Regions from separate parts of the Homo sapiens genome. Here region 1 is linked to region 2. Evidence: fine-mapped expression QTL. A gene starts in region 2. The other region holds a variant in brackets. All regions are shown on one strand. Distances are from middle to middle.

Region 1 (15,689 bases), 33 kb after region 2:
GAAGCTTGTATACATTAACTGTCTTAGTGTCAGCTGGCTAACTGTGCCTCAACTCATCTTTATTGTGTAGGCACGAATATCTTCCAGAAAGTACTACAAGTAATGAATAAAAAATGTAGTTTAGAGGCTGAAAATGCCTGTGCAATTGGCTCTATATCATCAAGCCTGATTTTATATAACTTTGGCTACTCTGCCTAAATTTGGAGACTGGGTTTTCTTGCTTCCCAGCTGGTTGCATTGATCTGTTTGCCCAAAGGAAAGGGCCATGTCATGACCTGCAGGTATTAATATTTACTTTGCTTAATTTAAGTTTTCTTTGAATCCAAGAGCACTGGAATTTACTTTCTATAAATTCCTGAAGCACTTAATGCATAGGTGCTATATGTAAAGCAATAAGTAAGATACAAATATCTGCCCTTATGAAGTCAGCACACAGGTGAGCTTTATGATGAGACCAACTGTCTGATGAAGACTTTTTCTGCATTTTTCCCCTATTTAGATCATTTTATCTTCAAGTAACCTGTCTTTATGAAATAGCAAACTAGGAGTTCTTTTACATATCAAATACTATAGTAGGTTTTTTAATAAACTGATAAAAATAATTAGAAGCAATCCATATGCATATTTCTTAATAATCTTTTAATTTTGGTATGAGTTCAGATTCATACTAATGAGTAAATATCCAGTCTGAAATGATATTTAAATATTCTTTTAGGTTATTCCAAAATTTATATCTTTGCTACAGCACAACAGGAAATGGTATGTTATTATTACCTTTTTACCCATATGCTTTTCTGGTATGTTAGAGTATTTGGTGACACTTTCTTAAATATCATAAAGTCTTAAAGGCCATAGAATTGAATGCCCCACTAAATTTAAGAATCATTTCTCCAGTGTAATAGTTTTTAAAATAATCTGTATCTTATTTTTATAATTGTTGAGATAATTTCAGATCTTAATGACCTATCATAGAACTTTGAATTATAGCATTAAAATTTGAAATCTATTTTTATATAATTTTACTTTCTCAAAGGACTTATTTAATTCATAGAACTGTAGATATTTCTTTAAAATGAACTTATGACATAAAATTGAATACACATTTCACAGGGGTCACTTTCCTACTGAGTCCCCTCAGAAGGTTTGGAGATTAAGAAATATGAACAAAATTTAGAAAAGCTACGAGAATTTGTATTTTCAGTAAAGATTCTGGGATCCCCATGGGAATTAGCTTCTCTGGAGTTGTAGTACCCAGTCAATGCTTTAGGAGAGTTTACCTTTTTACACTTTATGATTTCACTTCGTTTAATCTCTTTAGTTGCATTCATGGGTCAGGGCTTCAAACAAGAAACTTCCTTTATGCTACTGATGTTGTAGAAGCATTTCTCACTGTCCTCAAAAAAGGGAAACCAGGTGAAATTTATAACATCGGAACCAATTTTGAAATGTCAGTTGTCCAGCTTGCCAAAGAACTAATACAACTGGTATGTATCTGTTTTAAAAGGTTGGTATTTTCAAAATTGTTAGTGGCAGTGACCATTAGTCAAAATCAGAAGCATACAGCTTACTTAATTTAAAAGTAAGCAAGTAGAAAATGAAATTAATGATTTTGTGTACCATATGTGTCTTAAATTAAGTTGGATCACCTATTTAGTAACAGCTTTTCAGGAAAAAATAATTCACTAAATGTGCATTCCCTAATTATATTTCTGCATAAGTCATTTGCAGAAATATAAAATTGTCTTAAAACAAGTAACAGTGATATATAAAATAATTACATTAGTAGTTATGAATGTCCATGTATATTAGGGGACATCAATTTTAAATCTTAGTTTAATAGAAAGAGGAACTGAATAATAACCAAAATCCAATGTGTATATCTGAGCTTCAGATGGAATTTAGGTTATAAAGTATAGAAAGTGTTACTAAAATGATGTTCATTTTAGCTGTCTTCCCTGCTATGAGGCAGTTGTTTTCTTTTTAATCAGCCATTAAATACTATTGTTATTCTCTGATCTCATTTTATAATTTGACTCAAAAGCTTTTTCCATTTTGACAGATCAAAGAGACCAATTCAGAGTCTGAAATGGAAAATTGGGTTGATTATGTTAATGATAGGTGAGTAACAAGTTAAAACCTTGGGGAAAGGTTGTGAAATCTTAGGTACTTATAAAATTATAAAATATGTGGACTTGACCAATAACTAGTTTATCTGTTTTGAATTTTCTGGTAAAACATTTTTTTCATAATCGTAAGTACCATACAAATTAAGTATAGCATTATTACTTACTAGCTATGTGACTTAAAAAACTATTGACCCTTTCTAAGTCTGAAGTTTCAAACCTCCAGTGTGAAATAGGGATAATAACATCTTTTTTTTTTTTTTTGGAGACAGAATCTCGCTCTGTTGCCAGGCTGGAGTGCAGTGGCGCAATCTCGGCTCACTGCAATCTCTGCCTTCCCAGGTTCAAGCAGTTCTCCTGCCTCAGCCTCCCGAGTAGCTGGGACTACAGGCACACGCCACTACACCCAGCTAATTTTCGTATTTTTAGTAGAGACGGGTTTGCACCATGTTGGCCAGGATTGTCTCGATCTCTTAACCTCGTGATCCGCCCTCCTTGGCCTCTGAAAGTGCTGGGATTACAGGCATGAGCCACCTTGCCTGGCCAATAATAACATCTTTCTTATAAAAGTATTCTAACACTTATTTATAATGTGTATGAAATACCTGACCCACAGCCTGGCATATGAGTTCTAATAAGTTTTTGTGTATTTGTTTATTTAGTCATTGAACATTTGTTGAGTTTTTTGGATGTGTCAGGTACTTCACTTATATCTAGATCGTGGCTGAAACAAGAAGACAAGACACAGAGAGGGTTAGGCACCTGGCATTATGGGTGACTTTTTTTTTTTAAATATATACTTGATTTTACAGACTTTCTGCAGAAAACCTATTGGGAATTTTTGTAAAGAGAAAAGTTGGGTTGTGGTAAAAATGCATAAACACATATCTCCTAATATCTAAATTTGTAAATATATATCTACAATATTATTTTAAATCTGTTTTGTTTTCCAAGACCCACCAATGACATGAGATACCCAATGAAGTCAGAAAAAATACATGGCTTAGGATGGAGACCTAAAGTGCCTTGGAAAGAAGGAATAAAGAAAACAAGTATGTTTTGAATTAATCATTTTGGGGGCAAGTCAGAAAAATTTAAAGGAAAAATAACTTATTTCCAGAACATTATACAAACCAGTGGAATATTGTGTTGAATCATTCGTACTTTTCAAATTGCCACATTTCATATATTTCTAGTAGCAGTCCTGTGTTTCCTAAGCATCTTGAATTTTATAAACCAACCTCTGATCAATCTTCCCATATCTTGTTAGCATTAATCAAATACCTGTATTATTTATTCTGAGGTACATATTTTTTCACTTTCTTCACACTCCTAAAAGGTATGTATTTTTATAATCACTGGTGTCTTATAATTATTATTGTAGCTTTTTTCTTTTTTACATGTATGTAAAATAATGATCCATCAGTGGCATCTTAGAGTTGGTGAAATATAGATGCAGTCTTTTTTGTGTCTTGAGGCTTTTTATATTGAAACCAACAGAGGAAATAAATTTAGTATGTGCAGAAAAATCTATTAAAATAAGTGCATATAAAGTCTGTGTATACATGTTAAAGCTGTATTTAGAAATGTATTCATGAGAAAAGCTCTACCCAGATGTAGAAAAAAAAGTTTTGATTCAGAGCTTGAAATACAAATACTTAAGTCAAATATTAAGAAACAAAAAATAATTTAAAACTATCAGATTTCTTTAAACTAAAAAAGCTTTTACTGATAGTATAGCAATATAAAATAATTTCACATATTAATAGAAGGAAGGTGCTGGGCATAGTGGCTCACATCTGTAATCCCAGCACTTTGGAGACCAAAGTGGGAGGATCACTTGAGGTCAGGAGTTCAGGACCAGCCTGGGAAATATAGCGAGACCCTGTCTCTACAAAAAGTAAAAAAATCAGCGGGGCATGGTGGCACATGCCTGTAGTCCTAGCTATTTAGGAGGGTGAGGTAGGAGGATCTCTTGAGCCCAGGAGTTTGGGCCTATAGTGAACTACGATTGCACCACTACACTCTAGTCTGGGTGACAGCGAGACCCCATCTCTTTAAAAAAAAAAAAAAAAAAAAAGCAAGGAAGTTCACATCAACTCATTGTGCCTCTCATGCAGTGTTACCATATTTATACGACTAAACACTGTATTATACTTTTTTATATAAAATAACCTTAAAACCAGGGCAGATGACTTATTTCCCACACCCCAAATTCCTTAAAATCAGAATCTTAAATATTTATACCAAGTTCAGTATTGAATGACTTTAGAAGTTAAGAAGAAAAAAATAGTTGATTTTTAATCATAAATTTTTTAGGTGATTTAAATGTCTTCTGATTGACTTCATTGTTAAGTTCAAAATCAAATTGTTTACATCATTAGTCAGCCCTTGTCTGCTGCTTAGCTGATGGGCAAGACTTAGCTAGCAGGAACTCAGTAAAGGTTGGTTAACTGATGTTTAGTTTTTCTTTCTTTTCTTTTTTTTTTTTGTCTTTTGTTTTTTCCTATTAGTTGAATGGTACAGAGAGAATTTTCACAACTGGAAGAATGTGGAAAAGGCATTAGAACCCTTTCCGGTATAATCACCATTTATATAGTCGAGACAGTTGTCAAAGAAGAAAGTTATCCTACCTCGCCAAGTGGTATGAAATTAAGTGACCAAATGAAGTGCACTCTTTTCTTTTGGAATTAGATTCATGACTTTCTGTATAAAATTCAAATGCAGAATGCCTCAATCTTTGGGAGAGTTTCAGTACTGGCATAGAATTTAAATGTCAAAATTCTTTCTGAAACCCTTTCTCCTAGAAACTAGGAAATAATAGGTGTAGAAGACTCTCCCTAAGGGTAGCCAGGAAGAAGTCTCCTGATTCGGACAACCATGAGGGGTAGTGGTGCTAGGGAGAAGGCAACCTTCACTGGTTTTGAACTCAGTGCCTAAGAAAGTCTCTGAAATGTTCGTTTTTAGGCAATATAGGATGTCTTAGGCCCTAATTCACCATTTCTTTTTTAAGATCTGATATGCTATCATTGCCTTAATAATGGAACAAAATAGAAGCATATCTAACACTTTTTAAATTGATAATTTTGTAAAATTGATTACGTTGAATGCTTTTTAAGAGAAGTGTGTAAAGTTTTTATATTTTCACAATTAACGTATGTAAAACCTTGTATCAGAAATTTATCATGTTTACTGTTTAAAATGATTGTATTTATAAAATTGTCAATATCTTAATGTATTTAATGTAGAATATTGCTTTTTAAAATAATGTTTTTATTTTGCTGTAGAAAAATAAAAAAAAATTTGATTATATATTTTTAATCCTTCTTTGCCCTAAAGACTTTAAGAAGACTTGAAAAAGTAACTGATTGGCTATTGGGTTGAGAAAGGGAAAAGAAACTGGGTGGCCCTCTATTAAGAATGCAGATTTTGGTATGGAGGCATCATAATTCCTCATTAGAAAGTCTTATACTTTAAAAATACCCTTAAATACCAGCCTCCCACTGTGCTTAGGGATCCCTGAGTCCATACCTCTTCTATTCAATTTCTCCAATTTCCCCTTTCTGGAGAGAAAGAGAGGGAAGACAGGTGTGTCAGTTGAGTCTTACAGGAAGCAGATGCAGAGAGAAAGTAATGACTATAACGATAAAAGAAGGAGGAAGCAAAATTGGGCAGGCTGTGCGGGCAGAAAGGCAAACCCAACCCATGTGGAGAAAATGTCTATTGTGAGAATCAGCTACTAGCCCTTTCACAGTGGAAAGGGCCCAATGGAGTTCATGTCCCACCAGGTAGCTGGTGGGTTTCCTTGAAGAATAGTGCCATATTGGGGGCTCAGTATTTGTCTCTATTGCCAGCAGGTTGGATATTCACAGGTGACAATAGCTACATTGGCTGTGGTAAGTGAGAATTCATGCTGTGGGTCCCAAGAGTAGGGACCATCTGTACAGTGAGGCCTATTCCATTCAGGTGCCCATCATGGTAGTTCTGGGGTGGCTGATGATGAAAGCTGGCTAAAGTTAACTGACCAAGTCATTTTATCTACTGGGTGGTTCAGTGCCTCTTGCTATGGTGGTTGCTTTCTAGTGAGTGTTAACATGGAATACACAGATCTTCACACTCCCCACCCTCTCCCATAGATAGGCCTATCCACGCTTCTCCAACCTTTACTTCCTTGTTTCCTGCTCCTCTAGACTTTTTCCTTCTAAGCCCCAAAGTAGCTAGCCAGGCTACTGGTCATGACTAAATGTATATTCTCACCACAGGTCACTACTATACATAGTGCATGAGCAGGGATACTACTCGAAGCTTTTTTCTTGGAAAGGTTTTCTCTTTCCACATTCTTTTTAAGGCCACCCCTGCATGGTTTTCAGGCAACCACCCTCCATTTTTGGCTTGCACCCACAGAACAGGCCAATCCATCTATAAACTAAGATCAACTTTTTTTCTCCTTTCAGTTGGTTGTATGGGACCCTCTATATGGCCACAGGTATAAAGAACTAAGGTGGTGACATGGGAGTCTGGCCTACCTGCTCTTACAACTTACCTGTGCTCTCCCATTCTGCTCATGCTCGATCCCAGATGTGCCATTTCCATCTTCCAGTGGACTGCTGCTGGCTCCACCTGACTCTGAGTGGGTGGGCACATTACTCTGCTAGAACTGCCATAACAGAATATCAGAGACTGGGTAGCTTCTACAACATAAATTAATTTTCTCACAGATCTGGAAGCTAGAAGTCCAAGGTCAGGATCAAGGTGTTGGCAGGGATGGTTTCTTCCGAGGCCTCTCTTGGCTTGCAGGTGGCCATCATCTGTCCTTATGTGATCTTTACTCTGTGTCTAAATTTTCTCTTCTTATAAAGACACCAGTCATACTGGATTAGAGTGTATTTTAAAGATCTCATTTTAATATACCTCTTTAAAAACTTTGTTTCTAAGTATAGTCACTTTCTGAGGTACCAGGGGTTAGTACTTCAACATAAGAATTTGGGGGAGACACATTTCAGCCCTTAACAGTGGGTCCAAGTGAACTTAGTACATATGGGCAGTTCTAGATGCATGGTCATTTGGTGTCTTGTCGTCAAGTATTCTGGGTCTACCATGGCACAGTAATTTATTTTCCAAAGGCATGATTCTCCACTGAGCCTGAAATGGTCTTTCCCAGGTGTAACCATGGGACCTGCATAGTTATTCTCCACTGGGGCTCACCATAAAACCCACACTACATCTGTCTCTACCACTGACACCACCAACACCATAGGGTTTACCACATCATATAGCCCAAGTGGCAGGAATGCTTACACCCCAGCTTGGACCTGCTGCAGACCTCTTTCCCGCCCCAGACCCCTCAAAGCTGGCAGCCTTTTCTGTCGCTCAGTATATAAGCTGGAGCAGTATCCCTAAGTGTGGAATGTGTTCCCTCCAGAACCCAAAGCCACACTCTGTGTTTCCTTCTCTGAGGAAGGGGATATAAGATAAAGCAGTTTGACTTTTACTTGGAGGGCATGTCCTGGCACACCTTGATTGTTTGACTCCTAAAAACTTTACTGAAATCACAAGTCCTTGAATCTTCATCAGATTTTATCTCCCACCTTCTGGGGTGAATGTGAATTACCAAAGCCATCAGGGTGCTAGCCACCTTTGCTAATTCTGCCTGATCAGCATGACACCATCAATGTGATAGATCACTGTGACATTCTACAGGATGTTCAGGACACCCAAGTCTCTTAGGAGAGCAGAACTTACATAGCCCTAAGGTGAAACTGCAAATGCTCCTGGTTTCTGATCATCATGGTTGAGATGGAAAAGAACACATACAGCAAATCAGTGGCTGGATACTATGTTCCAGGGTCCTTCTAATCCACTTCAGCAAAGAAGATGCCACATAAGCACAGCAGCTGCCATCAGAACCTGGTATATAAGTTTGGATATTTGTCCCCGTGCAAATCTCATGTTGCATTGTAATCCCTAGTGCTGCAGGTAGGGCCTGGTGGGGGGTGTTTGGGTCATGGAGGAGAATCCCTCATGCTTGACATTGTCTTCAAGATAGTAAGTCCTTGTGAGATCTGGTTGTTTAAAAGTGTGAGACACCTACCCTCCATCCCCGCTACTGCCTCTCTCTCTTGCTCCTGCTTTCACTGTGTAATGTGCCTGCTCCCAATTTGCCTTCCGGCATGGGTAAAAGCTCCCTGAGGCCTCCCCAGAAGCCAAGGGATGTCAGCGCCATGATTGTACAGCCTGCAGAACCGTGAGCCAATTAAACCTCTTTTCTTATAAATTACCCAGTCGCAGGTATTTCTTTACAGCAGAGCTGCTCCTTAATTGAGCTGGCCTTGACTGCAGTCATTTCACCAGGATCTACCCAGTTCTAGCAGTGGCCAGACTGGTGAATTAAACGGAGCTTTGGTGGGGGCCTCTCTGTAACCTTGAGATCCTCAAGGGTGGCATCATCTTCACCTCCTCCAAGGTGTGATTTTGTGTTTTAAATTGAGACGAGGGTCTCACTATGTTGCCCAGGCTGGTCTCGAACTCCTGCACCCAAGTGATCCTCCTGCCTTGGTTCTAAAGTATTGGGTCATGGCGGCGAATCCCTCTTGGCTTCTTGACACTGTCTTCGCGATAGTAAGTTCTCATGCGATCACTGCTCCCAGCTGTGATTTTGTTTTTGATTTACTATCTCAGCCAGGCCAGAGGCCCAGCTGAGGTAGGTTTGTTAAGTTTGCTTCAGCCAAGGTTAGGGTGCTGGTTGGGAAAATCTAGGACCCTGACACAAAGATGAGACTGTCTGAGTGGATTCCTTTAAAGATGTCTGCAGCTTTTAAACTATTAAATACTGAGTTTGGTCTTGGGCTTCTTCTATTCTCCTACCTCATGATAAGGCCCTCACACTTAGTTGTCACTTATTTCTTGTTCTTAGCTTTTCATTACCCTTCTGGAGGACATCAGTACAACTTATTAAAGACCAACAATTCCACTGCCCTTGTAAGACGTGTTCTCCTGAGCTTTTCAAGTGCCTGAATTATTGCAGTAAGCAGGGCAGGGTGGTCCCCTTCCAAAGAACATTCCCCCCAAGTCACCAACATGAAAGTTTTAGCAACTGCATCACTACCTTATGCTAGGGACTGTGTATGCCCCCTGCCTCACCCAGGATGGTATTCTTATGACCAGACAGGCAGAAAGTGATCCAGTCTAAACCCATCTTATCAACTGTTTTGTTAGACCACTCTTAGAAGTGACTGTGTCATTTGGGTCCTCTGGGAAGTAGTGGCTGAGGCCAAATTAGAGGTGCTAGCAGTTTATTAATAGGATAGGGAGTTAATGCTTGTGAAAGATACAAAAGGGAGGATGCATAATTGGGCAGAAGAAATCTTCAGGCTGCAGCGTAGATCAGACATCTGTGAAAAGGAAGGGGTGAGGAAGAGGGTTGGCAGAGTGGGCTTCAGAATCTCATCCAGCTCAACAGGGATCTGCAGAGCAAAATCTCCTG[A/GA]AAAAAAAGCCCCACCTGGGCAGAAATGGCTGGGTTCCCTATTGTGCTCAGCCATTGGCCAGGGGCTACTTAGAAACGACCAGGTGGATCCCGAAGGCATTGCAAGTGGAAGCTGCTGGCTAACTGCACTCTTGCCAGCTGAATGGCAAGCTTTTTCTTAAAGGGAAATCCAAATGGTAGACCTTGATAATTGCCATTTGTAGGGGAGGAGGGGGTCTTGGAGTTTAATTGCTCTCTATACAGACTTTCAACCAAACCACTTGGTTTTGTTTGTTTGTTAGATAGAGTCTCACTCCATCACCCAGGCTGGAGTGCCGTGGTGCAATCTTGGCTCACTGCAACCTCAGCCTCCCAAGTAGCTGGGACTACAGGCACGTACCACCACGCCCAGCTAATGTTTTGTATTTTTAGTAGAGATGGGGGTTTCGCTGTGTTAGCCAGGATGCTCGCGATCTCTTGACCTCGTGATCCGCCCACCTCCCAAAGTGCTGGGATTACAGGCGTGAGCCATCGCGCCCAGCTGCGCCACTTGCTTTTTATCCAATGCCTTACCCTCGCCTACCTCCCTTACCTCCGCCTTCCACTGCCCCAGTTGCTTCCAGGTTCTGTGAGGTCAGCTTACCCAATCTGGAGGTTCCTAGAAGGCTCATTGGAGATGACATTTGAGCTGTGACTTAATGAATGGGAGTTAGTGAGGAAACAGGATGATTCCAGGCAGAGGGATCATCAGAGTGAAAGCACCAAGTTTTAAATAGTGCTGTGTGTTCAGGAAACAATACGCCATCAGTTTTACTCTAGCATAGTCATTCTCAAAACGTGTCTCCATTTCATTAAGGAAATCAAAACTATAATGAGATATCACCTGACACTCATCAGGATGGCTATTATTTTTTAAAACAACACCCTGTCAATGAGGATGTAGAGAAATTGGGACCGTGGTGCATTGCTGCCGGGAATGTGAAATGACGCAGCCTCTGGAAAACAATATGGTGGTTCCTCAGAAAGTTAAACATAGAGTTATAATATGATCCAGCAATTCCACTTCTAGGGGTATATCCAAAAGAATTGAAGGCAGAGGCTAATATACCTGCACACCAATGCTCATGGCAGTAGTATTCGCAATAGCCAGAAGGTGGAAACAACACAAATGTCCATCAACAGATAAATGGATAAAACAAAATGGCTTATGCAGTGGAATATTATTCAGCCTGAAAAAGGAGTGGAATTCTGACACATGCTGCAACATGGATAACCCTTGAAGACACAAAAGGACAAAAGTGGTATGGTTCCACTCAAATGAGGTTCCTGGAGTAGGCAAATTGACACAGTATCAGAGGTTTACCAGTGGCTTGAGGGAGGAGGGAGGGAGGAGGTATTGTTTAATGTGTACAGAGTTTCTGTTTAGATGATGAAAAAAGTCCTGAAACCAGATAATGGTGATGGCTGTACAACATTGAGTCTACCTAATGCCCCTGAATTGTACGCTTAAAAATGGTTGAACATGGCTTTTACATTATGTATATTTTGCCATAATAATGATTTTTTTAAATGTGGCCCTGGACAGACAGCATTCACATCACCTGGGACCTTGTTAGAAATACAAATTCCCAGACTTACAGAATCAGAAGCCCTGAGAGTGGGGCCCAGTAATTCAGAAGCCCCCTAATGTTTGAAAGCCACTGTTCCATAATGTGAGATGGGGAGGTGAGGCTGGAGAGGAATGTGGTAGCCAGGTCATGGAGGGCCTTGTCTGCCATGGTAAGATGCTTGGACTTTATCCTACCAGCCAAGAGCTAATTCTGGATTTTAAGGAAGAAATTGACATGGTTAGATTTACAGGATTTATCTTTTTCCTAGTTTCAAAAATAATATGCTTATTATAGAAAACTTGGAAAACTAATCAATAAAAGAAAATCACCCATAATCTAACACTGGAAGATAATTCCTGTTAATATTTTGATGTATGTAATTTAATTTTTTGTGCATATATACATACATTTTAAAAACCAAGTAGAGGATCATAATGGACATACTGTTGTGGAGCCTGGTTTTTTTCATGCAGCAGTATATCATGAATGTTTTTGCATATTATGAGATCTTTTGCCATTTTTATTGACTGCAGAATTATGTTTTTGATAGCTTTTTCTGGCAATAGCATGGAAGACGAATTTAAGGAAGACAAGAATGAGTTCCTGCAGGGATTGAAGTTATGAAGCTGTTGCAGTAAATCAGGCTGGCGATGATAAGGCCTAAAGCACAGCACCGCAAACAGGGAAGGGAAAGTCTGGGACAGACATGAGAACGTTTTAGATTTAAAAACTTACTGATTGATGATACATTGGAGGAGCTGTTTTTTGACATGAGTGGTATTTTAAGGTTTTCAGTGTTGAATTGGAAAGAGTGGAGAATGGTGGATTACAATTAGGAGATGTTGAGCTTGGAGAGATGTTGAGCTTTAAGGGTCTGTGGAACATGTTAAGTGGAGATACCTGGTGAACAGGCAAGTATGTGAATCTGAAGCTCAGATTGGTGGTCAGGGCTCAAGATCTAGACATACATATTTGGGAGTTAAATGACTGTTAACATCTGAAAGTAGATTAAATCCCCCCCCCCCCAAGGAAAGTATACAAAATGACAGTGTTGATGGTGGGTGGAATGATTTACAGACAAGCCATGAGAAACACTAATATGTAAGTTGCAGGCAAGCAGCCCAAGGAAATTAGGAAGGAATGGTTAAAAAACAAAATTATGGGCCAGGTGCGGTGGCTCATGCCTGTAATCCCAGCACTTTGGAAGGCTGAGGTGGGCAGATCACCTGAGGTCAGGGGTTTGAGACCGGCCTGACCAACATAGAGAGACCCTGTCTCTACTAAAAAAAATACAAAAATTAGCTGGGCGTGGTGGCACATGCCTGTAATCCCAGCTACTTGGGAGGCTGAGGCAGGAGAATTGCTTGAACCCAGGAGCGGGAGGTTGCAGTGAGCCGAGATCGTGCCATTGGACTCCAGCCTGAGCAACAAGAGCGAAACTCTGACTCAAAAAAAAAAAAAAATTACTCCCACTGCTTCACTTGACTAGCCTTAAAAATCAATCCATCAATCAATCAATTTTGAAATAAAAAAGAAGGAATGGGCGGGGAGCGATGGCTCACGCCTGTAATCCCAGCACTTTGGGAGGCCAAGGCGGGTGGATCATGAGGTCAGCAGTTTGAGACCAGCCTGGCCAACATGGTGAAACCCTGTCTCTGCTAAAAATACAAAAAAAATAGCTGGGTGTAGTGTTGGGCACCTGTAATCCCAGCTACTCAGGAGGCTGAGGCAGGAGAATTGTGTGAACCCGGGAGGCAGAGGTTGCAGTGAGCCAAGATTGCGCCATTGCACTCCAGCCTGGGCAACAAGGTGAGACTCTGCCTCAAAAAAAAAAAAAAAAAAAGGAATAGTCAGAGGAGTGGAAGAAAGGAAGAAATAACGCCACCAAAGCAAAAGGGAGAGACATTCAATAACCAGCAGATGGCCAGCTGAAGTTCAGTAAGGCAAAGACTAAGAAGTGTCCACTGGTTTTTGGCAATGTGCAGGCAAATTTTCTAGTGTGGGGAGAGGGAGAGAACCTCTGGATTATGAAGATTGAGTAGTAATTAGGAATCAAGGGATGGAAAAATGGAATTTAGCCTTTCAATGAGCTGAGAAGAGTCAAGATAGGGCCAGCCCTAAGGAAGGCACAGGCTTAAGGAAAGGTCTTCAGAAGCTGCTTTGTTTTGTTTTTAGCACAGAAAGGACTTCTGTATAATTATAAGCTGAAGAGATGAGCAATAAATGAAGAAAGATAAATGATATTCAGGAGTGCATAATGAATGGAGTACAGTGTCCATGGAGATGGGCTCCCTAGGGAAAGACTCACTTTGGGATAGGGTTGATCTCATCTTTCTGGATTAGTAATGACAGGAGCTGAGATGAGATTGGATACAGTGACTTTTGGGGAGGGACGAGAGGGAATTCACTGTGGCCTCAATTTTCTTCCTGAAAGTCGGGAAGGCAACAGGAGAGAAGTGAGTTTTGTAGTGTCTCAGAGGAAAATGAGAGCAGCAGCTCTACCACCGCCCAGTGAAGGTGCAGCCATGTTTGAAGGCCATGAATTTATACTGTTACAACTATTGAAAAAATGCTGCATTGACCATCTCAATATACACCTGCGTGTACACAGGAGCGTGTATTTCTGAAGGATTAATGCCTAGATTTGGTATATCTGGGTCCAAAAGCACATGCACTTAAAATTTGAAAGATAGAGATGAAATTCCTGCACTCTAGCAAGCCATGGGTATTAATAGACCTTTAATTTTTGCCAGTACGAAAGATGCAAAAATTGTTTTATTGCACTTCTAGAATCTTTAGCTAGCTTGAGCCTCTCTTTGACCTCACCTGCAGATGTTGAAGTTCTGCCATCTATATTACCATCACACTGTACTCATACAATTTGTTTATAGGTGTGTGTGTTCCACTAAACACGGAGCTCCTGGGGGTGTAATCACCTCCCTGGACACTCAGCATCTCTATTCATTTGCAGGTTTTTTAAAGAGCAGAGTCTTTGCCACTGTCTGTCTGTCTCTCAATTTCTCTCTCCCTCTCTCTCCCCCTTCCTCCTCACACACACATTTCCCCCTCCCTCCTCACCCCAGGCAGAATCTCTTGCATTTTTACGATTTGTAGTCAAACACCATTTGACTACATAAAGCTCACTTTCTTGCTCAAATCTCACACTTTAAGAAAGAGGTGAACCAGTTTTGCAAGTCTTATATCTGATTTCACTTATATTTTGTTGTTGTTTAGAAAGACTGATCTTTAATTCTCACTTTGGTGCTTCTTTATAGAAACTTCTAACCTTGAATGATTTTTCTAGGATCCGTCCTTAGCTTTAATAGTATTTTTAATACTGTTGTGTTTTATAGCTAAACCCACTATGTTTTAATTGGCATACTCTTAAAAATAGTGTTACCGGGTGATGGAAAATGTTATATTTTACCAATGTAACCATTCTATCCCAAATTTAGGAAGTCGAAGCCCCCTTGTGTTTTCTCTACTTAAGTCGATTTTGAAGAGCAAAAGAAGCAATTCTAGGTCTTCATCTTTTTCTCTTGGCTCCAAACGACAGGCATATCTCATTTTATTGTGCTTCACGTTATTGTGCTTCGCAGATAATTATATTTTGTATAAATTCAAGATTTGTGGCAACTCTGAGTCGAGCAAGTCTATCGGTGGCATTTTTCCAACTGCATGTGCTTACTTCTTATCTCTGTTACATTTTGGCAATTCTTATAACATTTCAAACTTTTTCATTATTATATCTGTTATGGTGGTCTGTGATCAGTGACCTTTGATGTTACTAGTATAATTGTTTGGGGGCACCGCATATCATGCCCATGTAAGATGGCCAACTTAATTGATAAATGTTGTATGTTATGTCTGCTCCACTGCTAGGCCTTTCTCCCATCTCTCTCCCTCTTTCGGGGCCTTTGTATCCCCTGAGACAATATTGAAATTAGTCCAGTTAATAACCGTACAATGAGCTGGGCACGGTGGCTCACACCTGTAATCCCAGCACTTTGGGAGGCCAAGGCAGATGGATCACCTGAGGTCAGGAGTTCGAGACCAGCCTGGCCAACATGGTGAAACCCCATCTCTACTCAAAATACAAAAATTAGCTGGGCATGGTGGCAGGTGCCTGTAATCCTAGCTACTTGGGAGGCTGAGGCAGGAGAATCGCTTGTACCCGGGAGACGGAGGTTGCAGTGAGCCGAGATCATGTCACTGCCCTCCAGCCTGGGTGACAAGAGCAAAAACTCCATCTCAAGAAAAAAAAAAAATTAGCCAGGAGTGATGGCGCGCCTGTAATTCCAGCTACTTGGGAGGCTGAGGCACAAGAGTTGCTTGAACCCAAGAGGCAGAGGTTGCAATGAGCCGAGATGGCGCCACTACACTTCAGCCTGGGCGACAGAGCAAGACTCTTTCTCTGAAAAACAAACAAACAAAAACTCTACAATGGCCTCTAAGTGTTCAAATAAAGAGTTACACATCTCTCACTTTAAATCA
Region 2 (15,689 bases):
ATCAATTTGAGGTTAGGACAATCTTTTAATTTTTATTGTCTCAGAAATCCAAGACCTTGTGTAGTATTTGGAATAAGTCTTGTAAACCAGATATTTATAGAATAAATCAGAATTTATCTGCAAAGGAGATAAAAATGATGTTTTTAACCAAGGAATCACTATAAAAGTATGACTATAAAACACCACAAGTAGAATGGCTTCACTGAAACTCTGAATTCTTTTTTTTTTTTTTCTTTTTGGTTTTCACATTCGTATTGGGAGCGATGGGAGGGGCCTCCTCTGTCAGTGGAGGTGCTCAGTTTCTTCAGCCACTCCAAGCTGGAGCTCTGGGGATCCTGGGGGTGGCCGGGCACATTGGTCATGTTCCCATCATTGCGGACGGGCAATGGGTAGTTGTAGGGCATGGTCTCGTAGATCATGATGAAGTACTTGGTGTAGGGGCTGAGTGGGGGCAGAATTACAGCTAGGCTACCAATGATGAAGGACACAACCAGCACTGGCTCCCTGGCCCAGGCATTCTTGAGGAAAGTGCCAAGTCTCGCCACCATCTTGGTCTCGGCGGCTGAAACTTTGAATTTTGATTTTCGATATTTTCACAGTTTCCGGGTTGGTTAATGACATTCAAAAAAATTATTGTGGTAAAATATACACAATGCTAAATGTATCATTTTAACCATTTTTAAGTGTACAGTCTATGGCATTAAGCACATCTACAATGCTGTGCAACAATCACAGTGACATTTTTGAAGATTACTCGAGTTAAATTTAAAATGGAGCATTCAACTTACAAAATCATTATATCTAAAAACTATGTATTTTCAAAAGATTTTCCAAAATCTTTTTCTGATTGGTTGTTCTTTAAAGGTGTACAAAAAGCAGAAAAAATAGAAATTACAGGAATGCAGAAGTTATTATACTGGATCAGGTCCACATGAAGTAGTATGATACAGTCAGGGGTGGGGGGTGTGTGGCATCATTCAGATGTATGTTTGAATCCTGGCTTCAATACTTACCTGTTGTGTGACCTTGGGTAAGTTACATAAGCAATGACACTCACTTTCTTCATCTGTAAAATGAAGATACTACCTACAGCAAAGGGCTGATATAAGCACTAAGTTATTTGAGTCACCTAGCATGGTAACTGTCACAGAGTAGTTGCTAAATGTCAATTCTGCTTTTCCTTTCTTTAAAACAAGGTAGTTATATTAGTAAGTGGTTCTCAATCCAGGGTAATCTCCTTTCCTCCAGGGCATCTGAAAATGTGAGGGGATAGTTTTTTGTCACAATAGCTGGTTAGATACTTGGAGGGGGGCTGTGTTGAACCTCATGCAAAGAATTATTCCCCCTAAAATGCCAACGGCACTCCCTTCTGAGAAACACAAAATGATGTCTAAGATTCCTTCTGGACCTAAAACTATTAGGTTGGTGCAAAAGTAATTGCGGTTTCTGAATCTGACCTGACCTAAGAGGCACTGACTAACACTAACACGAAGCTGCCTAGGAGAGGAGTGTCTCAAGTTCTGGGTGTAACAAAAAGAGTAGAGTTAGAAGAGCGAGTCTTGGCCTTGCGACTCAGCAAATAAATTTACAAACTCTCTAAATTTGTTTCTTCAATAGTCAAATAAAGATACCTGCCCTGCTAGTGCAGAGTTCTTGTGAGGGGCAAATGAAAAGTATATGGAAAGAGCATGATTCTACACAAAGTATTTTTAAAACAGTATTATGATGGACCCAATTCCCAACTCTAGATTGCACCCAAAACATGTCAATATTTAAGGACAAATTAGTCTTAATCTTTTTCTCAATTGTAGAAAAAAACATTTTTAATAAATAAAAGACATTTCTTGAGGTAACTAGAAATGTATGTATGGAATAGATTTCAGAGGACATTATAGAATTACTCATTTTCTTAGGTGTATGATAGTTAAACAGATGAATTTCTTTACTCTTAGAAGATGTATGCTTAGGTATGGTGGGGCAAACTGTGATACCTGCTGCTTATTTTCACATGGTTCAATTAAAACAAAAATCACATACATATAGACATAAAGCAAATTTAACAAAATATTAACAATTATTGAGTCTAAGCAGAGGATATATGGATGCTGGTTGTACTATAATTTCAACCTTTCTGTATGTTGGGAAATTTTCCTAGTGGAAAGTTGGAAAAATGTTATTTATAGGTTGTCTTTAGGAATGAGATACAGATGTAGTCAGGATTTGAATTTTGAGGACTTGGACTGTACAACTGGGAATTTCGTTCATTGGTGGTTAAATTGAACAAGAGGATCTGATTACCACCACCATGGCATTGCTTTTTGGCTACTATAAGTTAGCTGACATTTAAACTACCTTTAAAAAAAAAAAAACACACATACAGTTTCTGGAAAAATGTAGCAAAGACTCTAGTTTCTGTTAAATATTGGAAGACTTTTAGTAAGAATTTAATATATGATCAATAAATGATTCACAAATAAGACTGTTTAAATGTGCAATTTGCAATTATATAATCCGGACCTCATTATATAAAGGCTCTGCTGTGTTGCCATTTTTATCATTTGCCCTTTTTCTCTTAGATAAAATATAAAAAAAACCCACACTTTTACCAATATATTTTTGATGTTTCATTTTAAATTATGTGGATTTACTTCAAACAGAAATAAAAGTATGCTTCATAAAGTGATACCGGCCTTTAGTTTTTGTCTTGCTGTCTTTTCGGCAAGGCTGGGAAACAAGCCTCTTGACAAAACTGTGTGTTCATTGTTTCTGAGACAAAAGACTACAACACAGCATGCATATTCTATGCTGGTGTAATTAGTACCTCAAATATTAACAAAACTTGAACTGCTGAGAATGGTGTTGAATAGCTAATTATCCAATCATATTATAAAAGGATTTGAATACTGTTAACCAAAACACACAATAAAATACTAACACCTTTAAATGATTTATAAAATATACCAAACTACAAAAGGAATCATATGCATAATATGTAAAAAGACAACACTGAAATGTTTTATATACAATATTACATTTAGCTCTTGTAATCTGATAGAAAATTCCTCCGAATCTCCTCGTTAAGTTTTAGATAGAAATACATAAACTCATCATTTTCAGTGCTTTCAAATGTCTTGTTTGCTTGCTTTAAAAATCTACAAAATAGTTTTTAGTATTTTTTAAATCAGATTTTTATGACAGAACAAAGAGATGACTGAAAAATAATTTTTCAAACATTAATTTGGGAGAGTCAAGCAACATTCAACACTAAGATTTTTCTAATCTGCTAGTCTTTTCATAGTACACAGCAGCAGCAAGGTTTTACGTAGGAGCTGGGCAGAGTTACTGAGTTCATTACCAAATAGGTGAAAGGCTGTTAACTCTTAAGTCTCATTAATAGCTAAGAAAAGCACTTGCTATAAGGAACTATTCTTAAATATGTGTTACTATTACATCATGAATTTAAGGATATGCTTTTTGTTTAAATGTACCTAAGCTCCTAAATAACATACCATAAATATGACAATATATAAAAGTTAGAGACTTAAGATTTGGATTTTGTTATTGGAAAAAAAAATTGGTGAAGTACATATATGTAGAAATCAGTATTAAATTTATTTTAAGCCCCAAAATTTGACAAAACAACCTTCATTCCTCTAAAATTCCTGTTACCTGTTATCTTCCATTCCACAATTTCAAAATATACCTCTGCACTTAACAGAACAGGGAAAAGAAAGAGAAACTAGAAAAAGAAACAACAGCAGAAGGTTTTGTTAAGTTGTAGTCCTATACATAAGTAACTCCATCCTTAAGAGTTATAACGAGAATGGCAGCATTTTGGAACTATCATGAACCTTAGGGACACCTAGTCCAACTTGCTTGTTGTACAGATAAGTAAAATGAGGTTCAAAGATAACGAGTTCTTGTTATAAATCACTAGCAGTGATACTCAGTTTTATGGTCTTCCCATTGCACCACACTGTCTCCCTGTATACAGAAGTTCTGGGAATACAGGAATATGACTCATACGAAAATGAGGTTTTTAAGTGTATAAAGTATATAAATACTGACTATGTGATACAAGAGAACAAATCAATATTCCTATAGCTCAAAGCTTTAAACTGCCTAGTAAGTTTTTGTTGGAGATAGAAAAAGTCTTTGAGATGCCAAACACAAAAAGCTAACAACCAGCCAAACAACAAGCCCTTAAGCATGAAGGTCTACGACTATTCATTCTACAAATACTTAGTAAAAACTTAACTAAGCACCGGGGTATCATCAATTCTCATTCTCATAGTGCCATATAATTAGCATTCATAGTACTTATCAAAATTGCAATTTTACATTTATTCACATTCATCTGATTCATTCTGGTCACCTCCACCAGCCTTAAGGACATTTTGGTCACTGATCTATCAACAGTACCTAGCAGTACATGAAACAGTGGAAGCGCTCAGTGAATGAACACACCAGAAGAGCCCTACTGCTCTCATTGACTGATTTTATAACAAATAAATAAAATGTAAAGTGGTAACTATAGTAAGTGCTATGCAGGAAAGCAAGAGGCTATAAAAACTTAGGTGTTAACTTAATCGACGGAGGAGCCAGAGGGGAGGCTGAAGAGGAAAAAGCCTATGCAAAGGCTCAGAGTAGCACTGAAATAAAATGCAGTGAGTGGGGCAATGCCCTGAGATGAAACGGAGAGGTAAGCAGCAGCCAGTCTACAATGGCTTTGCTGGTCAGGTTAAGGAGGCCCGGTCAGGTTAAGGGAAACCATTTATTTTAAGGGTGTGGTAAAGAAGTGAATGTAACATGACCAAATCTGCTATTTAGAAAGATCTAGTTACAGAAGGGGGACCAGCATGGCTATAAAATAACCACGTAGGAGACTGTCGAAATAGCAAAGGCAAGATGAATTCAAGAGATATTTAAAAGTAAAACCTCAAGACTTAACTGATGTATGAGGGGGTAGAAAGGTCAAAGAGGGGAGTATTAGAAGACACCTTGGTTTCTCAACTGTTTACTGGATGGATGGTGGTGCCAATTCTTAAAACAGGGAACATCAGAAGAGGACCAGGTCTGGATGGGGAAGATGGTGAGTTCAGTTTAGACGCCAGAGGAATTGGGAACTGAAGGACATGACCTTTTACACATATGTGCAACACTTAGATGAGCAAACTGGCAGAGAAAGGAAGAGACAACCAATCAAGAGAATCTGCATGTATTTCCCAGATAAGTTTTGAATTCAGGGTCAAAGTAAATAATTGTATGTAATTGTCATTCATCTTTAGGATACTATCTTCTCACAATATCATCTCACAAATCTACATTAAAGATCCCCACAATGGGTGGCAAGGACTGGGGACCTCTGCTCTTTTCACTGATCTAGCTAGTTGCCTTATGAGGGAATCAGACAGCTGATAAGATAAAAGCCAGATGTTTAGAAATGAATGCTTCACTAGAATAGGCTAAGAGAAGAGACTACCATGTTCCATATATGGATGAGTCCCTGAATAATAAGAGGAAAAAGGGAAGAATAATTCCCATTTTTCCTCATGGATGCTTCAAATTTCTAATGTCTTCTACACCTAATTAACTTGCGAGGTGCAAAATGGAAACAATGGCACATGTTCTTCATTTCCGTATTTAAAAAAATTTTCACTCACTCTGGATGGCTAGCAACCTAATGCACAGGACAATGTTGATGAGAATGAATGGGATCACGGATTTAAGCCACTAGATTAGGATTTAAAAAGTACAGCCTCTCTAGAGGCAAATCCAGAAGTATACAAATGATGTGGTGGTGGTACATCTCAAAGTGACTTTTTTGAGACAAAGTCTCACTCTGTCGCCCAGGCTGGAGTACAGTGGTATGATCTTGGCTCACTGCAACCTCTGCCTCCCAGGTTCAAGCAATTCTCATGCCTCAGCCTGCCAAGTAGCTGGGATTACAGGCGCATGCCATCACACCTGTCTAATTTTTTTCTGTATTTTTAGTAGAGACGGGGTTTCACCATGTTGGCCAGGCTGGTCTCAAACTCCCAACCTCAGGTGATCCACCCACCTTGGCCTCCCCAAGTGCTGAGATTACAGGCCTGAGCCACTGCACCTGGCTGTCAAAGTGACATATTTTATACCATATAACTAAGTCTCATGTTCAAATGACATGTTGTGAAACAGCATCACTCAAGCTAAATTACCCAATTAACTAAGATAATACATTGGCATTTAGCTCAGTGCTGGCAGATAATTAGCATTCAACAAATGTTACCATTCATTCCATGCTGCCACTGGGTCAAAATATAGTTTCCATATTGGCATAAATTATGCAAACTGTAAAGAGTCAATGAAAGAAAGGACTCCTATATAAATTATCTGGATTTTTTTTTCAAAAACGATGAATGATAAAAAGGGAAAGGCACTGTTAAAACTCAGCTTAAAATGTACTAGACAAAGTGTCATCACAGTGGGATTATGCTGTCAGGAAACATAACATATGTACATATGGTACTATATTTCAACATTAGGAGGAAAAAAACTATATCTAATGATCAAAGAAAAAAGGATATACTCACTTGTCAACTGAGCTTTGGATAATTTTTCACTACAGCTATAACCATGACTGCTTTGCTGTAGCTTTAGCCATTCCTGGGCTTGGAACAGGTAGAGTTTAGCTTCTTTTCCAACAGCTACTGCTATGTTGTTGATTCTGACACACAGAAGAGCATGGTCACCTTGACATTAAAACAAAAATCATCAACTAGTTTGGTCTTACATGAAACTGAGACATGAGGACAACTCAACACCTCTACTTACCAAAATGGAAATTTAAAAAGCACAATTCTTCTTAAATCTCGCTTAACTAGGTAAATCACATCATAATGAACACAACATTCAGAAGCAAGAGATTATTCAAATGAACGTGTGGTATTTCCTTGAAATTCAGCTGATAACTGATATTTCACTCAATAAACCGCAATATCTGGGGTATTTGAACAATTCACTGTATTAAAATTTTTGCCTCACTTTACAACCACTTCACATTTTATATTTTATTCATAATCTATAGAAATGTCCCACCAAAGTTTCTGTTTTTTAATATGACATAGGTGTTAATATTTAATTATACTCTTAATATAAAAAATAAACATAGCTAATAGCAGGAAAGTTTAAATGTATGTGTTCTGGGGTAGACATATTATACCTAAAACAAAATTTGGTATCTACGACTTTTACAAAAGAACTTTCAGGGGCTGGGCACAGTGGCCACACCCGTAATCCCAGCACTTTAGAAGGCCAAGGTGGGTGGATTCCCAGCCCAAGAGTTTGAGACCAGCCTGGGAAACAAAGTGAGATCCTGTTGCTATTTAAAAAAAAAAAAAATTAGCTGGGCTTGGTGGCTGAGCCTGTAGTCTCAGCTATTCAGAAGGCTGAGATGGGAGGATGGCTTTAGCCTAGGAGTCTGAGGCTGCAGTCAGCTTTGATTACACCACTGCACTCCAGTCTGGGTGACAGAGCAAAACTCTTTTTTTTTTGAGACAGAGTGTTACTCTGTCACTCAGGCTGGAGTGCAGTGGCGCAATCTCGGCTCACTGCAACCTCCACCTCCCAGGTTCAAGCGATTCTCCTGATTCTCCTGCCTCAGCTTCCTGAGTAGGAGTAGCTGGGATTACAGGCATGCGCCTCCACACCCAGCATCACCACATCCAGCTAATTTTTGTATTTTTAGTAGAGACAGCGTTTCACCATGTTGGCCAGGTTGGTCTTTTTTTTTTTTTTTAATTTATTTTTGAGACATATTCTCGCCCTATTGCCCAGGCTGGAGTGCAATGGCACGATCTCAGCTAACTGCAACCTCCGCCTCCCCGGTTCAAGCGATTCTCCTGCCTCACCCTCCCAAAATAGCTGGGATTACAGGCACCTGCCATCATGCCTGGCTAATTTTTATATTTTTATAGAGACGGGGTTTCACCATGATGGCTAGGCTGGTCTTTAACTCCTGACCTCAGGTGATCCACCCACCTCAGCCTCCCAAAGTGCTGGGATTACAGGTGTGAGCCACCACGCCCAGCCACCAGGTTGGTATTGAACTCCTGACCTCAAGTGATCTGCCCACCTCTGCCTCCCAAAGTGGTGGGATTACAGGCAGGAGCCACCCAACGAGTCTGGCTTCCTTTTTAAAAAAAAAGAACTTTCAGAATAATATATGTTGTAAGATGAATACAGAATGAACCTGGTTGCACACACCAACTACATTTAAGGCCCAGAACAGAAATGGCAGTAAGTTATTGCCTCTAGGGAAAGGGATTCTGGGTGAAAGAGCTAAGACAGGAGACTGTTTTTCATTTTAAGATCTTCTATTCTCCTGGAAATTTTTTTTCTATGCTTTTATTACTATAATTACCACTTTGATTAAACATTTTAAATATATTTAAATATACAGTATATATATCAAAGAATGTGCAAGTCTCTTACATAAATTGATTACATATTTTGAAGTCTTACAAGTGACTCTGAGGCCCAATTGACACTGTAAATTGCATTCCGAGTTACAGTTCATTGTTTCAGTATAGTTTTTGTATTATTATTTTACTGAATTGGGATTCATGAAAATTGGTAATAACTATATGTGATTTTACACATATGAAACAGAATGAACGCACTTGAAACACCTTATCCCCAATCTGTCTTGAGAAATCTGAATTTAGTACATGTTTCTCCTCCACGTTTACCAGATGATCATCAGGAACTATGAGGTCGTCCAAGTCTCTCTGCTGGTCCTAAGTAATAACCCACGTCTTCTATACATCCCACATTTTCCAACACTGTCCACATTGTGCCATTTAAGACAGTGGCTGTCAATACTCAAAGTATGGTTACAGTCCGTTGAATGAGAAACTCAAAATGTTACAAAAAATAATAAAATTGTTTCTAGTGTTTCTTCTTCATTCACCCAAAATATATTCCACATTGGATTTTGAAAAACTGGGTTACTGAAACTCCTTTTCTTAGCTATCTTAAAAACTTCAAAAAAAAAAAAAATCAGGATCCCTTCCCTTTATTCTGTCAATTCTGTAATTTCCCAATACTTTAAATTCCTTTTCTCACCAAAGTAGTTCCGTTTCTATTATCTTCTCCTAACAATATTTTCTAGGCCAATATTCTGATGTTCATCGTTGCATCTTTTAATGCTAAAGACTGTACAAATCAAAGTTCCTAATGTCATCAAGGCAAATAATTATTTGAAATACAGCACTAGTCAAATTAAGAGTACCAAGAAAAACACTTAAATTGTGAGAGTGCAAATGAGACCAAAATTAGAATGAATTGCAAATGCATTTATTGAAGGAATAATTACTGATTTTTGAGGAAGACCAAAAGGTCTGAAATCAAACGCAACTCTGATTTCAGAAGAGCCACACAGAACACAAATTAGGGAGCTTCCAAGATGCTACTTAAATGCATTTTCATCAGCTTAATTCTAGGCCTTACTGCCCATAGTAAATCTACTGCCCTAGTAGCCAAGTAACCAAACTGCTCAATATAACAACTACATTATCAAGTGTTTTACTTGGTTTCCAAAACCACTCTGTTGCAAGTAGGTCTCAGGAAATTGGTCTTTAAAAAAAAAAAAAAAAAAAAGGAAATTTAAGTTTCTAGGGTTAAATTCTCCCGTCACAGTGTGGCCGAGACAGGAAGGAGCAAATATGCTTCTTTGCGGGAAGGATCTGGAAAGATGCGGCCGACCAGTCTTTTGCACATTGGCTTCCAAGGGGAGGGTTGGGGAAATGGAAACCAGCTTTCAGGTGCGGAACACGATCACTAGTGGCGAGAGGCCGCTGCCTGGGGCTGGAAAGCCGCACCAGCGGGGTTGGCAAGGAACGCATCCCACCATTCGCGGCAGCTGCTGCAACGCTGGAGGTCCAGGTGAGGCTGGGGAAGTCGCCGGCCTCGCCCAACGTGGCAGGGAGGGGCCGGGAGGAGCGGCCGGCGGACTCAGCCGGCGGGATGGGCCAGCGCGCCTTCATCCCCCTCCCCGCCCCCAGACCTACCATGGAACTCGAAGTGGCCGATGCGCTGGCCCTGGGCGTCCTGGGCCGCGGTGCTGCTGAAGCTGCCCCGCAGGGTCTTACCCTGGCTGCCCTGCGGCCACCAGCAGCACGTGAGGGCCACAGCCAGCAGCCGCAGCCCCCCCATGCCCGTCTCCAGGTCTGCACCGACGCCTCGGCTCCCAGCCGCCGGCGGCTGCCCGCCCCACGTCGGCAGCTGGGGGAGGCGGGGTGGGCGCCGGAGACCTGCTGCTCTGGAGCCTGAGAGCCAATGAGGCGGGCTCCTCTGCCATAAGCCGAAGACATTCACCAGTCAGAGGCCGAAATGGGCGGGACGCGCAGATCCTAGCGTCCCATCAGTCCCCGGCTTTTGACTAGTTCCCGCCTTTTTCTTTAATGAGGAATCAGGAGGATGTTGCTTCAGGTTACGGAAAACTCATCTCCCTCCTCATTGCCTAGCACGTCTTGCTACTGAGCATGCGCGGGCGCGCTGGCACGAGTCCGCGGGGCCTTCGAAGGGCTTGTGGGATTCGGAAAAAACTTAAGAAATGCAGGACAGGACTGTTTCTGGCCGAGAGAGTTAAACTCCCGCAAAGAAAAAACTGTGTTCTTATGCAGATTTTCTTCCTTGGCGCCTGTATAACCTACAGGACGTGTCCGATTTAATGTCTCAAAGACACTTAGCTCCGCATGACCACAATTTAACGCATGCCTTCTCTTGGCATCTCCAGCCGATTTTTCCCTCCTAGGTTCTCTGGCTTCTCGAATTACATTACCCCCACCCCCACCCCCGCCCGCAGACCAGACCGCTGGGAATTGTAGGCCCCCCCCCCCCCGCAATTCAATCAATTCAATAACAAGTGTGGATTAGCCCTTCTTCTGGTGAGGGTGGGAAGCAGCGGCCACAGTCCTACTCAGTTCATCACTTTGTTGGCCTATGGCAAAGACCGTCTCTACAGTCTTCATTCTAATTGGCTACAATCCATCTCTACCCTACAGCCACAGAAAGCTGTAGGAAACAATTTGCTGCACTTGCCTTGAAAGGTTCTCAATTGCCTTTAGCACACAACCCAAACTCTAGAATATGGCTCTTCAACTCTCAAATGTCTGTTTTTTCTCATCTCCATCCTTACCGCCGTTGGTTTCCTGAACACTCCCAAGTTCTCCCTTCTAGGCCTATATCACTCCCTGATCCCTCTGGCTAGAATACTTCTGCTTATTCCAACACTGGACCTCCTCACCTTCCTTTTCCTCCTTTACTCCTCCTTCCCAAGGCACTTTAAGAAGCCTTTCTCAAACCCCTAAGTCTGTAGTAGATGCCCCTGGAACCAGAATCCCTTACTTCCCTACCAGAGCACTCACGCACTGTACTGTAAGTATCCATTCATGTGTCTGAAATCTCCGCCTCTATTGTCAGCTCCAGCTGGTCAGTGACTACACTTTTTTTTTTTTTGAGACGGAGTTTCACTCTTGTTGCTCAGACTGGAGTGCAATGGCGCGATCTCGGCTCACCTCAACCTCTGCCTCCCGGATTCAAGCGATTATCCCACCTCAGCCTCCCGAGAAGCTGGGACTGCAGGCATGCGCCACCATGCCCGACTAATTTTTTATTTTTAGTAGAGATGGGATTTCTCCATGTTGATCAGACTGGTCCCAAACTCCCGACCTCAGGTGATCTGCCCGCCTTGGCCTCCCAAAGTGCTGGGATTACAGGCGTAAGCCACCTTGCTGGCTATACCTGTCTTAATGAAAGTGAGGCAGGAGAATAGGGCCTGGGGTGAGGGAACCTAAGGCGTTTTTACACCGACTTTCTAGAACTATTAAAGGAAAACCCTAACTTTCCACCCTAAGTAACAAAAGGACCAGAGGCTATGCCCTTTGCAAATCCCCACCTTTTCTGTGAGGCAGATAAGAAATTGGCTGTCCCTACCCAGTCAGACTGATTGCCAGCTGAGTCTTCGTTTGCATAGAAGTGCAACTTTGTAACTCTGTAACATTGCTTTTTGCAACCAATCAGATGTTTGCACAGGAGTGTGACCTTTGTAACTCCACTTCAGCCTCTGATTCATTGCTTTCCCCAAGAATCAGACCTATTGGGGGCCACCACTTCATTTATATGAGGTGAGCTCCAAGTGGCCAATGGGAAACTTCTAGGGAGTATTTGGACCCAAGATGATTATGTGTCCAGGCCCTTCTGCGCTGTGTAGTTGCATTTTCTTTTTTTGAGACAGAGTATCACTCTGTCACTCAGGCTGGAGTGCAGTGGCACAATCTCGGCTCACTGCAACCTCCGCCTCCCAGGTTCAAGTGATTCTCCTGCCTCAGCTTCCAGCTGGAATTACAGGTGCACACCACCACACCTGGCTAATTTTGGATTTTTAGCAGAGACGGGGTTTCACTATGTCGACCAGGCTGGTCTCGAACTCCTGACCTCAAGAGATCCACCCACCTTGGCCTCCCAAAGTGCTGGGATTACAGGTGTGAGCCATCACGCCCGGCCATGTACTTTCATTTTCAATAAATCCCTGCTTTCGTTCTTTCGTTGCTTCATTCTTTTGTTGCTTCATTCTTGCCTTGCTTTGCTGTGCATTTTGTCCAATTCTTTGTTCAAAATGCCAAGAAACTGGACAACTTGCAGTCAAGACCCTCCACTGGTAACAAAAGTAGGAGCTCAAAATTATTTCATGAATAAATGTATATAAATTATTTTCATTTAACAACAAGCTTCTATAACATATAAGGAAGTTCTCATAACAGACCTCATCATTTAGAAAAAAAAAATATTGAGGAACCACCTCCTACCATATACACAGCATTTTCAGTATTTCTGGCTGACCAGGAATATGCTGGAAGTATTAATATTTTCGGATTTTTTAAAAAAAAACTGCGGCCGGGCGCGGTGGCTCACGCCTGTAATCCCAGCACTTTGGGAGGCCAAGGCGGGTGGATCATGAGGTCAGGAGATCGAGACCATCCTGGCTAACAAGGTGAAACCCCGTCTCTACTAAAAATACAAAAAATTAGCCGGGCGCGGTGGCGGGCGCCTGTAGTCCCAGCTACTGGGGAGGCTGAGGCAGGAGAATGGCGTGAACCCGGGAAGCGGAGCTTGCAGTGAGCCGAGATTGCGCCACTGCAGTCCGCAGTCCGGCCTGGGCGACAGAGCGAGACTCCGTCTCAAAAAAAAAAAAAAAAAAAAAAAAAAAAACTGCAAGGATTCTTTATTATGCAAGTAATCCATGTGTCTCAGAAAAAAATTCACAGTCAAAAGTATATAAAGTGGGCTGGGCGCAGTGGCTCACGTCTGTAATCCCAGCACTTTGGGAAGTGAGGTGGGTGGATCACCTGAGGTCAGGAGTTCAAGACCAGCCTGGCCAACATGGTGAAAACTCATCTCTACTAAAAATACAAAAACTAGCCAGGTGTGGTAGCATGCGCCTGTAATCCCAGCTACTTGGAGGCTGAGATGGGAGAATCGCTTGAACCTGGGAAGCAGAGGTTGCAGTGAGTCAAGATTGTGGCACTGCACTCCAGGCTGGGCAACAGAGCGAGACTGTCTCAAAAAAACAAAAGTATATAAAGTAAAAATTAAACTCCCCATTTCCTCCTTTCCCTGCCCATATCTCATCCCTAAAGGTAACTTATTTTAAGAGTTTAGGGTCAATCCTTTCAAGTAAGCCACAAATACCACAAATATATGTGGTATTACAAATACCACAAATATATGTGGTATTTGTAAACCAAGGACAGGAATAAAACTGGTCCTGAAGAGAAATCATAACACAGGCCTTGAATGTTAGGCCTTTCCTATCTTTTCTTTCTTCTCAATCAACTTTGTTTTTCTCACTGTGAAGACAGGCTTTCTGGCTCCTCACTTTGAAAGAACATGGCCACCAAAAAGTTCCAGCTTTGTAGGACCTCAGAGTTCAAGTAGAGTAACCAGACTATACTAGCACCTTAGTCGAATTCTAAATCCCAAGAAGAGGCTTCAGTTGGCCTAGAGTCAGCCAGATTTCATTCTGTGGCCTGCCTGGGTCAACTTGGGGAGATCATAAAGGACAGTGGGGGGAGGAGTCTGGTCAGAAAAAAACTGTACGTATCGACTGCAATATATTTTGGTCTTCATTCCATGTTGGTATATTCTTTTTAAAGGCTATATAGCAGTTTACTGCATTTTAAAAGTTAGAAGACATTATACACATTTAGATTATTTCCAGTGTTTCATTATTGCAAGCAATACAGCAATGAACAATTATCTATATTATACATCATGGAATTTGAGGGGGTCATAGAATATGAACATTTGAAATTTTCATATGTTTTACCACTTTGCCTTGTAAAAAGGTTGTGGTATGATTCTTCCACATATACACCTGTACTGGATGTTTCCATTCGTTTTCAGCTTTGCCAAACATTATGGTGGGGAAAAAAAGATATTTATCTATTCGACAATATTTAATGGTCATTTATTCTGTGCCAAGTCTCTAAGGACATGCGATTACAGCAGAAAACAAAACAAAGCCCCTGACCTCATGGAACACTAAACAGAGGGCAGTGACATCAATGTAAATGTTGAGTGCTAGGAAGAAAAATAAAGAAGGATAAGATGATTCGGCAGGGTTGGGCAGAGCTCGCTATTTTAATTGTGGTGGTCAATAGGATGCCATTCAAGCTGAAAACGGAAGTAAGGGTAAAAACTAGGCAGACATCTGGGGAAAGACAATCAAGGTCCCGGGGAAGTAGCATGCCTGGCACATTGAATGAAGAGCAAGGAGGGTGGGGAGGCTGGGGCGGAGTGAGCAAAGGAGAGAATAGAATAAGACATCAGCGTAGGACCTAGGGAATATCTTTATCATGATTGCAAGCCTTCTGCGCTGTCTGTAATAATAATATTATTATTTTTTGAGACGGAGTTTTGCTGTTGTTGCCCAGGCTGGAGTGCGATGGTGCGGTCTCGGCTCACTGCAACCTCTGCCTTCCGGGTTCAAGCAATTCTCCTGCCTCGGCCTCCCAAGTAGCTGGGATTACAGGCGCCCGCCACCACGCCCGGCTAATTTTTGTATTTTTAGTAGAGACAGGGTTTCACCATGTTGGCCAAGCTGGTCTCGAATCCTGACCTCAGGTGATCCGCCCACCTCGGCCTCCCAAAGTCCTGGGATTACAGGCGTAAGCCACGGCGCCCGGCCTGAAATAATATTAACAACAGCAAAAGATCATTTTGCAGGCCAGGCACGGTGCTCACGCCTGTAATCCCAGGACCTTGGGAGGCTGAGGCGGGAGGTTGGCTAGATCCCAGGAGTTCGAGACCAGCCTGGACAACAGGGCGAAACCCATCTCTACCAAAAATTAGGCGGGCGTGGTGGCGCACGACTGTATTCCTAGCTACTCAGGAGGCTGAGGTGGGAGGATTGCTTGAGCCCCATTGGTCGACGCTGCAGTGAGCCGTGATCGCACCACTGCACTCCAGCCTGGGTAACAGAGGGAGACCCTGTCCCCGCCCCACTAAAAAAAAAAATCATTTTTAAATTGCAACCTCCCATCTCCATCTGCAACAACTCCCCGTTCTCAGCTCAACTGATAGGTAACCTCTAGAGATGGCTGTAGTACAAGAATGAAAAAAGGTACTCATTCATAAATCTGATCCAT

What was found.
Region 1: its variant is fine-mapped to the expression of GPR180 in whole blood (INTERVAL, PIP above 0.99). The same link has a PIP of 0.9 or more in fibroblasts and lymphoblastoid cells.

Annotation. Positions count from the first base shown.
Region 1 is chr13:94,563,800-94,579,488 of GRCh38, reverse strand. It overlaps TGDS (TDP-glucose 4,6-dehydratase), which reads left to right. Exons shown (of 12, transcript NM_014305.4): 8 at 716-759; 9 at 1,319-1,484; 10 at 2,060-2,118; 11 at 3,078-3,175; 12 at 4,637-5,435. The coding sequence ends at 4,707. Among named protein-coding and RNA genes, the nearest start is that of TRF-GAA1-5, 22 kb to the right of the region's middle. The variant A/GA (reference allele first, on the strand shown) is at 9,607.
Region 2 is chr13:94,596,433-94,612,121 of GRCh38, reverse strand. GPR180 (G protein-coupled receptor 180) reads right to left here and starts at 10,265. Exons shown (of 9, transcript NM_180989.6): 1 at 10,050-10,265; 2 at 6,573-6,731. The coding sequence starts at 10,194. It also overlaps the pseudogene NDUFA3P5. RefSeq lists enhancers at 7,378-7,877, 10,233-10,527 and a silencer at 9,855-10,454.